Regions from separate parts of the Homo sapiens genome. Here all the other regions are linked to region 1. The links come from fine-mapping of genetic effects on gene expression. A gene starts in region 1. Each other region holds a variant in brackets. All regions are shown on one strand. Distances are from middle to middle. Region 1 holds the start of ZRANB1 (zinc finger RANBP2-type containing 1). Region 2 has its middle 63 kb from the start of ABRAXAS2. Region 3 overlaps ZRANB1 (zinc finger RANBP2-type containing 1). Region 4 overlaps CTBP2 (C-terminal binding protein 2).

The links. PIP is the estimated chance that this variant, and not a neighbour inherited with it, causes the effect.
Region 2: its variant is the best candidate, but not a certain one, in a credible set for the expression of ZRANB1 in esophagus mucosa (GTEx, PIP 0.52).
Region 3: its variant is the best candidate, but not a certain one, in a credible set for the expression of ZRANB1 in whole blood (TOPMed, PIP 0.84).
Region 4: its variant is the best candidate, but not a certain one, in a credible set for the expression of ZRANB1 in whole blood (INTERVAL, PIP 0.59).

Annotation. Positions count from the first base shown.
Region 1 is chr10:124,940,747-124,943,495 of GRCh38, forward strand. ZRANB1 (zinc finger RANBP2-type containing 1) reads left to right here and starts at 1,377. Exons shown (of 9, transcript NM_017580.3): 1 at 1,377-2,561. The coding sequence starts at 1,748.
Region 2 is chr10:124,863,446-124,866,194 of GRCh38, forward strand. No RefSeq gene overlaps it. Among named protein-coding and RNA genes, the nearest start is that of ABRAXAS2, 63 kb to the left of the region's middle. RefSeq lists an enhancer at 1,013-1,512. The variant G/A (reference allele first, on the strand shown) is at 1,517.
Region 3 is chr10:124,986,202-124,988,701 of GRCh38, forward strand. It overlaps ZRANB1 (zinc finger RANBP2-type containing 1), which reads left to right. Exons shown (of 9, transcript NM_017580.3): 9 at 1-1,988. It overlaps CTBP2 (C-terminal binding protein 2), which reads right to left. Exons shown (of 11, transcript NM_001329.4): 11 at 1-2,500. Among named protein-coding and RNA genes, the nearest start is that of ZRANB1, 45 kb to the left of the region's middle. The variant G/C (reference allele first, on the strand shown) is at 995.
Region 4 is chr10:125,006,896-125,009,644 of GRCh38, forward strand. The region is part of intron 3 of CTBP2 (C-terminal binding protein 2); the gene reads right to left. Among named protein-coding and RNA genes, the nearest start is that of MIR4296, 25 kb to the right of the region's middle. RefSeq lists an enhancer at 957-1,462. The variant G/T (reference allele first, on the strand shown) is at 1,376.

The DNA.
Region 1 (2,749 bases):
GGGTGGATCACGAGGTCAGGAGTTCATCAAGAGAAGCCCGGCCAAGATGCTGAAACCCTATCTCTACTAAAAATACAAAAATTAGCCGGGCATGGTGGCATGCACCTGTAATCTCGGCTACTTGGGAGGCTGAGGCAGGAGAATCGCTTGAACCTGGGAGGTGGAGGTTGCAGTGAGCTTAGATTGCACCACTCCACTGCATTCCAGCCTGGGCAAAACATAGCAAGACTCCATCTCAAAAAAACAAAAATGAAAACAACAACAACAAAAAAACAAACAAACAAAAGATTTAACCCTCTAGGTTCAGGAAAAATCCCTGAGAAAGAGAGAGCAAAGCTTCTATACTCTGCCTAGGATTTCTTTCTCTTTCCGGGTGAAAAATAGGTGTTGGGATGATACTGAGTTGATAAAAGTATTTAGGAAAAGTGGCCAGTGTCTAAATTCAAGCCATTAAAAAAAAAAAAATTAAATTTGTTATGTAAGTTGCTTCATTTATGAATTAGTTGCCATTAAATTATGAAGTCTTTCTTCATTATAGTGTAGTGTTAGCCCATTGTTGAATCCTAGAAATCTTTTAAGTAGTGTGAATATCTTTTAAATATGAATTGGATTTTTTGGGGGGCAGGGGATGGAGTCTCACTCTGTCACCCAGGCTAGAGTGCAGTGGTGCGATCTTAGCTCACTGCAACCTCTGCCTGCCGGGTTCAAGCAGTTCTCTGCCTCAGCCTCCTGAGTAGCTGGGATTACAGGCACCTACCACCATGCACGGCTAATTTTTGTATTTTTATAGAGACGGGGCTTTACCATCTTGGCCAGGCTGGTCTTGAACTCCTGACCTTGTGATCTACCCGCCTCAGCCTCCCAAAATGCTGGGATTATAGGCTTGAGCTACTGCCCCCGGCCATGAATTAGATTTTGAGTATATTTTAAATATTCAAAATTTAAAATATTTTAATTATGAACATTCACAATTATATTGGAATGATTATGCTACTGGTTATTTCAGTGACCTTCCACAGATTTAATTTTCCCCAGTACAGTCTTCTTTTTTTTACTCCAGATAGAACTAGATTTTGAGGCTACAGATTATCAAGGAACTACCTATTTCATAATGTTACTTTGTTAATTGTAGCCATTACTTCTCAACATGTTTCTTTACTACCTGTGCTAATTAAGAACAGTGGATAATTAGCATTTTAAGTTGCTTTTCTCCCTTAGCGAGAATGATAAAATAGACGTTGCTTGATCTTCTGAATTCATGAATCATAATCTGTGTTCATAATTTGAGAATGGTTATGTGTTTAAGCTATTTTTTAGTTTGTGTTGTTTCCTCTACCTTTGTCTCTTTAAACTATTGGTTACTTTTCTAAATTGATGTGATGGCCTCCCTGAAATTAAACATTTCTATTAGTGGCTTCCCGTTAATCTCATCCTTCTTAGATCAAACCTCGTTATATCTCCTGCCTATCTCTTTTGCATTCCAAAGTTCAGTTTTATTAAATCCCAGGGTCTAAGATTTTTTCTTTGAGAATTTATCTCCAGTGTTTCTATGGAAATTAAAAAAGAAAATTAGGATAATTCAATGTCGAAATGTTGCATGCATCTTTTGAGAAATTTATATTTTGTAGGTTGAAGGACTTGCTTTTTGGGCAGCGTATTTTTGGAGGTGGAATGTAGTTATTTTAATAACCATGTCCTAATTATTTATAGCTTCCTGCCTGACACAGCTCACTTCAAGAAGTGCACAATGTCAGAACGTGGAATTAAGTGGGCTTGTGAATATTGTACGTATGAAAACTGGCCATCTGCAATCAAGTGTACTATGTGTCGTGCCCAAAGACCTAGTGGAACAATTATTACAGAAGATCCATTTAAAAGTGGTTCAAGTGATGTTGGTAGAGATTGGGATCCTTCCAGCACCGAAGGAGGAAGTAGTCCTTTGATATGTCCAGACTCTAGTGCAAGACCAAGGGTGAAATCTTCGTATAGCATGGAAAATGCAAATAAGTGGTCATGCCACATGTGTACATATTTGAACTGGCCAAGAGCAATCAGATGTACCCAGTGCTTATCCCAACGTAGGACCAGGAGTCCTACAGAATCTCCTCAGTCCTCAGGATCTGGCTCAAGACCAGTTGCTTTTTCTGTTGATCCTTGTGAGGAATACAATGATAGAAATAAACTGAACACTAGGACACAGCACTGGACTTGCTCTGTTTGCACATATGAAAACTGGGCCAAGGCTAAAAGATGTGTTGTTTGTGATCATCCCAGACCTAATAACATTGAAGCAATAGAATTGGCAGAGACTGAAGAGGCTTCTTCAATAATAAATGAGCAAGACAGAGCTCGATGGAGGGGAAGTTGCAGTAGTGGTAATAGCCAAAGGAGATCACCTCCTGCTACGAAGCGGGACTCTGAAGTGAAAATGGATTTTCAGAGGATTGAATTGGCTGGTGCTGTGGGAAGCAAGGAGGAACTTGAAGTAGACTTTAAAAAACTAAAGCAAATTAAAAACAGGATGAAAAAGACTGATTGGCTCTTCCTCAATGCTTGTGTGGGTAAGTTTCTGTATTCTGCATTTTTTGCGTGGGATGGGAAAAGGTAGTAAAAATGATATGAAAAGAGCTGGGTGCGCTGACACACGTTTGTGGTCTTAGCCACTTGCTTGAAACCAGGAGTTTGAGGCTGTAGTATGCCATGATCGGTCTGTGAATAGCACTTGCACTCCAGCTTGGGTAACATAGTG
Region 2 (2,749 bases), 77 kb before region 1:
GAAGCCTGGGGAAAGGTAGGAAGAACTGTGGATTCCCTCCTGGAGCGAGCTGCCCTTCCCAGCCCAGGGTGGGTATGCTTGGGAGTAGGACCCTCTGGCCACGTGCAAGGAAGCCCTACCAGGCCCACAGCCCAGGTTATGCTTGACCTCTTCCCCTAACAGACTCCAGGCAAGTCTCCTGCCTCCTCCAACCTGTTTTCTTCCCAACCAGGGCAGCAGAGCAGGTCCTGCTGGCTGGCCTTTAAAGTCTTGCTTTTAACTTAGCCCCATAGCTGGGATAGGGTCAAGTGAGGAGACCTCGTGAGGCTAAACTAATCAATGCCCTGAAATGATATTTCTCTTATCAGTGGATCTTCCCCCTGGCTGCACTTCAGAATCCCGGGGGAGCTTCAGCAAATACCACGGCCGGGGCCCAGCCCTAGGGCTTCTGGAGTAGGGCTGGGGCCCATCCCCGGGGCTTCTGGAGCAGGCCTGGGGCCACTGGTAGGGTTCAAGAGCTCAGCAGGTAATTTTATTTATTTTTTGAGACGAAGTCTCACTGTCACCCAGGCTGGAGTACAGTGGCACGATCTCAGCTCACTACAGCCTCCACCTCCTGGGTTCAGGCGATTCTCCTGCCTTAGCCTCCCAAGTGCCTGGGATTACCAGCGCCCACCACCACGCCTGAATAATTTTTGTATTATTAGTAGAGACGGGATTTCGCCATTTTGACCAGGCTGGTCTCAAACTCCTGACCTCAGGTGATCCGCCCTCCTCGGCCTCCCAAAGTGCTGGGATTACAGGCGTGAGCCACTGCTCCCGGCCTCAGCAGGTGATTTTAACGAGCAGCCAGAGTTGAGATGGCTAGTCTAAGCCTCTAGTCATTCAAATGTTTAGCCTGTTGAGGCTGGAAGAGCTCCAGAGACCCTCCGTCTGGCCCTCATCTTACACGGGGAGACTGAGGTCTGCGAGGAGCCCGTGGGCTGGGAATGACAGTCTCTGTTTCCTGCCCCGCCTAGGACCTGAGACCACATTCCTTTTTTAGAGCACAGCGTGGCAGTGAGCCAGCATCTCAGCCCCAAAACAGGTCAGGCCAGGGAGGAGTCCAGGCCTGGTGACCATAGCTGCTGTCACTCAGGGCACACCCACTGCCTGCCAGGCTCTGGGCGGACACCTTCCTTCCACCACATAGGTGGCATTATCCACGCTTTCTGGTGATGACAGTGAGGCCCACTTGGCCAAAAGCCACTTGGGAGGAAGTGACCCAGCCAGGAATCATCCCGAAGCTGACTGACCCTGAGGCCTGTGTGTGTCCCATGAACCCTTCCTCTACCCCTCCCTCCCAGGGGAGGAGACCACCAGTGCAGGAGTCAGCGGACAGGGGCCCCTTCCTGGCACTGCCAGCTGGGCCAACAGGAGGAGAGAGAGGCAGGAGCAAAGACCTGCTTGTCTGAGCCTCGGTGTCTCTTGCAGTCCAAATGCCATCTGGTCCTCAGTACAAATATATTTCTAGGAAATCAATGATGTCCGGGCTGTC[G/A]CAGCCTCACCTCTGGACACTTATATAATCATTAACAAATGTCTGCCATTAAAGAGAAATGACTGTCATTTGACACCCAAGCTCCATTTCCAAACAGCAGACTGGTATTTACCCTCCTCCTGAAAAGAGTGGATTCTAAAACAGACGGCTGAGCTCACCTCTTCCTGATTTGCAGGAAACAATCCTCCAAATGTAAAGGTCTCAACCCAGCCTCCCAGCCAGGGAGTTCTCTGTCCATAAGGTTAAGGCTTCTATTCAGATTCAGCTAAAATAGCACTTCATGAAGTTGACTTTCTTTTCTTTTATTTATTTAATTTTTGAGACAGAATCTTGCTCCGTCATCCAGAAGTGCAGTGGCCCTATCTCGGCTCACTGCAACCTCTGCCTCCCGGGTTCAAGTGATTCTCCTGCCTCAGCCTCCCAAGTAGCTGGGATTGCAGGCACATACCACCATGCCTGGCTAATTTTTGCATTTTTAGTAGAGATGGGGTTTCCCCATGTCAGCCAGGCTGGCCTCGAACTCCTGACCTCAAGTAGTCTGCCGGCCTCAGCCTCCTAAAATGTTGGAATTACAGGCATGAGCCACTGCACCCAGCCAGCCATTGTGCCCGGCCCCAGCCTTTCTTCTAAAGGAAAGTGTTTAACTATGTAGGCAGGAAATGCACTCTTCTACATTTTAGATTACAAAAATGCTTCCAAGGACACAAGGCGTTCTCTTGTATCCTCACGGCTGTAGGAAGCCCTTGAGTGAAGGGTAGACGGTGGGGCTTTGAGGGTCACAGGGCAAGTGCTGGGCCCAGCATGGCCACGGACTGACTTCAGGAACTCGGACAGATCACTTCTCCCTGCGCCTCCACCTCCCCACCACCGCCGTTTGGTAAGGGAGCTGGAGCAGCTCAGCTGTCCACAAACCTGGCCACCCATCAGGATGACCCGGAGAGCTTTTTGGTCTGCTGCCTTTTAAGCTCCTCGTCTCTCTTTTAAGCACAGCCAGGTTCGGGAACTCCTGGCCAGCAGGCTGCCAAGCCCCCAGCTCTGACGGTCTGAGTGTCTGGTGGAAAGCTGCAAAGCCCTTGGCCCGCCAGCATGTCTGACCTGATGTTTTTTGCCCACTTCAATTCCTGGCATGTTGTAATGATGAGAGATCTGGTTATCCTGGGATGGTCCGTTCAGGCTTAGAACCATAGCTAACGTTTGTCAAGCCTTAGGAAGGGTCAGGCTTCCTCACACCGG
Region 3 (2,500 bases), 45 kb after region 1:
CACAGAAATATTTGGTGTCCTGATAAGCACTTTCTAGACTATTGATGTGGCCAGGAATTTGGAAAGACGACACACGCACGCGCGCGCGCGCACACACACACACACACACACACACACACACAGTTTTTTCCTTCCCTGTGATGAAAAAGGCTGTGAAAACCTTAAAGTATTTGCTTGCTTCTTGTTTTGTTTAGTTGATAATGAAATGTGTACAACCTCAAATTTGCTGCCAGAATACTAAAAATAGAAAAATACCCACAAAACTGTCATGTCTTTAGTTCTTTCCCCCCGAAAACTCAGTAAAAAGGTGTTCCCAGGATGAAAAGATCATTTTTTGCTGCATGCTAAATCTTGCAGGAAAAATGATTTTTTAGTACGATTCTGTAGAAATGAATCTTTGATATAATGTAAATGCTGCTGTTTGTTTCAAGTGGTGAATGTGTTGTTAAAAATTGGCTGTTTGCTTTCATTTTGGCCAATAAGTAATCAAGTTTGTAGAAAATGTTAGCATTCTGACTACTTAGCATCTGTAGTAATTTCTCTATGTATAGGGATAATTTTTTAGTGGGCAGAGATCCTGTTCTAGTTGCCTGTTAAGCAAAATCTGCCCTCCCAATTGAAAAAGCCAAAGAGAATTGTTAGAGGGAAAAGCATGTAGCCATTGCAGTCTGCATTGCAGCCAGCGTTGTCCAGAGTACACGCTCAGCACTTAGCTTCTACTGTGTGTTGTGGTCTGGTGAGTGTTGTTTCCCCTGAGCGCTCTATTATTTATTTATTTATTATCAATCAGTGACCCTGACCACATAGTGTGATAGGTGCAGCATTCTTCCCTGTGGGAAAGAATTAAAGATGGTTCCATTTCCTAGGCTACAGACAGGAATGGGGCTCTAAATGGTTTTCATAGACTGGCTGTTAAAGGCCAAAAATTTTGGTAAATCAATGCTATATTATGCTCTTGAACTATTAAAACAGCCATAATTATTGTCCCAAGATA[G/C]AATATAGTCCTTTTTCAAAGATGATTATACGTGGCTAGGTGACAGACATTAATGACTGACTCTGGAGAGTAAGTCATACCTGCACTCTGTGGACTTGATGGTTCTTTTTCTAGAGCAAACAGAGCGTGGCATTTTGTTTTGACTTGTTCTTCCTTGGGGTCAAATTTATATATATATATATAAATTTTTGTTTGGGCGACCAAGATCTAATAATTAAAACCCAGGTGGACCATGGATTCAGACCTGCCTTTTTATGTTTTTGACTCTTAGGTTCATCGTGTCCCAGACTTCTTCACATATTCGTGAAGGTAAGATATTCTGTGTGCGCTTGGCCTCCTTTTCACGCATATTTCATTGCCTCTTTGATGAGTGGTTACGAAGACGTTAAACTACCTTTTTGTTCCCTGGGGTAATAGGTCAGTAACTATGAGCGCCGTCTCTCTCCATGTGAGCTTGTGTTAATAGACACTTTTATGGTAGAGTTGGGATGGGGCCACCACCTTAAAATGAGTGAGCAGACAAGGCCAGGCAAGCCAAAGGCTTTAAGACACCATGATTTTCTTGTTTTGTTTTAATTGGGAAGGGAAGTATAAGGAAGAGCTCAGAGGGAGTTTCATACCTGGAATTGTTGGACTTAATTGACACTTGCAAATACTTTTAGTATAAAGGTTTAATTCTATTTAAAAAGAAGATCCATTAAATCAAGCTCTTAACTCATGGGACTATTTGCAACACTTCTTTGTAAATATCATTTTGTTTGTTAGGTTATTGGCAAAACAGTTTCAAGGTTCACTTCCCTCCCTTGAACCAGGTCCAGGTCATTTTGCTTTGGGGTAGATTAAAGTCAGAACTCTAAAAGTTGAGCAACTTTGTTTTTTTTTGAATTGATTTAGCACTAACCCACCATTGCATCTTAAGGATGGCATGACGTGATAATGATGGACTTGTGTGAGGTTTTGATTTTTCAATTAAACTTTTTGTTATCACAGGTAATTAATTGTCAGCGGTCTTGAGTCTGGTTATGGAACCCTGTAGTAACAAGAGCTGGAAATTGGCTAATTGACAATGCAATTGCCTTAAACATCTCAAGTAGAGAACATTTACATTAGTGAGATGTACTTGAATTTCAGAACTTAACAAATTTTAATTACTTTTTATTGAAAACTGCACTGAACGCTAAATGTCCACCTTTACAATAAACAAATACAGTAACGGTAACTCACACTAAAACAAAACATACTTCTGATAGCCATTATTTTTCTGTTTGGGACAATTTTAAAGTTTTTCTTTTGTCACAAAAACAGGAATGTACCTATACAAAGGCTCAAAATAGGCCATCTTTTTAAACAAAAAGGCAATGATTCACAAAAGACTATGAATAGAACATGTAACTAGTTGATACAAATCTAATAGGATTTGTTAAAATCAGTCACATCTAATACATCTGAAGTGTTCTTGTATAAAATATCACGTGAAGAAAAGAAGACTTTATCAATGTCTAAAAA
Region 4 (2,749 bases), 66 kb after region 1:
ATGCACAGCTGACGGCCTTTTCCATGCGTACAGACCACAAGGCTGACAAGAGTCCTGCAGTGCTGCTGTTCTTCCCACTTCACAGCCCGGGAGTCAGCGCTCAGGGTGGCCCCGTACCACGGTGCGCAACCACGAGGTATGAGGAGACACTTGCGGACGAGGGTCACAGGGCCCTGGTGCCCTCTATGCGCTATTTTTCCTTTCTACCGTCTCCCGCCAGTAAACCTGCCTTGTCCATTTCAGGACAATTCCAGCTGCAACTGGACACATCACGGAAATGACATCAGTGCCTTACTGTTGACAGCTTGCCCACATTAACTGTGTAGAGCAGAAAGCCCTGCCGGCTCCCCTGGTATCAATTACTATCTGGTTTCAGGCTTGCGTGTGCACCAGGACGGCCCTGCCCCTCCGTCCGGGATGTGCTGTGCACCAGCTCAAGGCAGTGCTGACGCCCATCCCTGGGCCTGGTATTGCTTAGAGCTGCAGCTGCAATAAATACTTGTGAAATGAGAGATGCTCAGTCAAAAACAAAGACAACACCAGGCCAAACTGCTGGACTTTTGTGAACAGTAACCAGACACCCAGGAAAAGCAAAGTGCGTGGATCTCACAGATCCTAAGGCAGGTAGATCTCAGGGAGGATGGCGGAAGGATCCGGAGCTGGAAAACGCTACATTTCATTGTGGGGAGCTGCTGCTTTCTCGGATACAGGCAGACAGGCCTGGAGTTGACCTTCTGGCTCAGTACCATGCAAGGCAAATGGGATGTTCCCCTGAGCAGTCACCAAGAAGGAACTGGATTGATCCTGCCACACAAAGCTGCCTGCAGTGTTTCTGAGACCCATTTTCCAGTCTTCCTAGACACTGTGTGAGCTAAGCCGACATCCTTCCAACAGAAATTCTCATTATTTAAAAATGATCTAAATGGGTTTCTGTTGCTTACAGCACAAGACAACCTGCCCCAGGGTAAAGGGTTTCAGGATTTGAGGCTTCTACCCCAAAGCAAAGCAGCTGCAAATGATCATTTCTGACATAGGAGGCAAAGGCTGGCTCTGGCTTTTTTTTTTTTGGAGACAGAGTTTCACTTTTGTTGCCCAGGCTGGAATGCAGTGGCACGATCTCCGCTCACTGCAACCTCCACCTCCCAGGTTCAAGTGATTCTCCTGCCTTAGCCTCCCAAATAGCTGAGACTACAGGCATGTGCCACCATGCCTGGCTAATTTTGTATTTTTAGCAGAGACAGGGTTTCGCGATGTTGGCCAGGCTGGCTTCGAACCCCTGACCTCAGGTGATCCACCTGCCTCGGTCTCCCAAAATGCTGGGATTACAGGCAATAAGCCACCGTGCCTGGCCGGCTCTGGCCTCTTTTTTTAAAAC[G/T]CACTAGATTTTATGGAAGTTTCCTGACACCGTAGCAGTCTCAAGACACCAGTGCCTGAGTCACTCCCTGTTCCTGACAGGGGCTACGGCTGCCCAAGGACAGACACTGGCCACATACCCCAGGGTTGCCCCATGAAGTCCCTGCAGGTTGCAGTCTTAGAGCTGACCGAGCTATCACATTCATGAGAAGAACCGCTGCTCAGAGTCACAGTAGTGGCCTTGCAGGAGGGAGCCTCTGTGGAATGAGGGCAGTTGCTGGAATTTGCCGGGTGCCGTCACCAGCTGCCCTAACACAGATGTTGTAAGAAGTACCTGGATCCTTCCACAGACGGGAGATCCAGGCAGGTCTTCCAAAGATCCCGACAGAAGGTGTCAGAGTGCTGCAAGCAGCTCCGAGCTGTACAGAGTAAAGCAGAGGTTCCTCTTCAAAGACTTTCCTCCCCGTCTAATTAGGAATAAATACTAACTTCTCTTAGAGGCAAAATTTATTCAAAGATCTGTGCTAACATTCTTAAATATTTGCTAGCCGTAATAAGGAAATCAATGTACGTTATGTTCTTAGCTCCCGCAATTTAGCCTAAATATTTGCCTTAGCATGCTTATACTGGTCCAAGCAAGCATTAGGTCATAGCCTGTTCCTCTTCCTTATTTGAAGGTGTTTTTACCTTTCTCAACATTCCACAAGTTACTTCCTCCTTCCTTTGTTCCCCTCTACCTTTGCCTCTTTAAAAAAGTTCTAAGTTGCTAGCCAATCGGGACAAATAGAGAATGTGAGGTCCCTTTCCAGCCAACGGAAACTGGACACAGCGGTAGGGTGGACGTGTCAGGTTATAAATGACCCTGTGTCCTTTGTTGGGTGAACTCTCGTGGGAAAACTGCTGGAGAGTGTACCCTTTCTGCAGAAAGTAAAAATGGCCTTACTAAGTAAATTAAATTTATGTTCAAGTGCTATTTCTTTATGGCACCGGGGAACGAGCATTCCAAACAGAGCCAAGCGATTCACGGCTTCATCAGCCCCTGTGACCTGCAGGTGGCCTGGGAGGCAGGAGGAGCCTAAGCAGCCGGTGTGGCTCCCAGCCTCATGCACAATGATCCAGGAAGAAAGAGGAGACAAAACCACACAAACTCCAGAGGCCGGGGCGGGACAGGGAGTGACCCAACACAGCCGAACCTGAGGCCCCGCCTGCCTCCAAGGAAGCCCCACTTAATATCCCACCGATCCCACCACCCTCAGAAAAGCTTCCTCTTAAATGCGGCCTGCTCCCCAATTAAGTGGCCGCTTTCTGCAATCCAGCATGACCCGATCCCCACTGGCTGAGCTCAGCAGACCTGATTTCTAGAAAGCCAGACACAGAATCAGAACTAAGGCCTGCT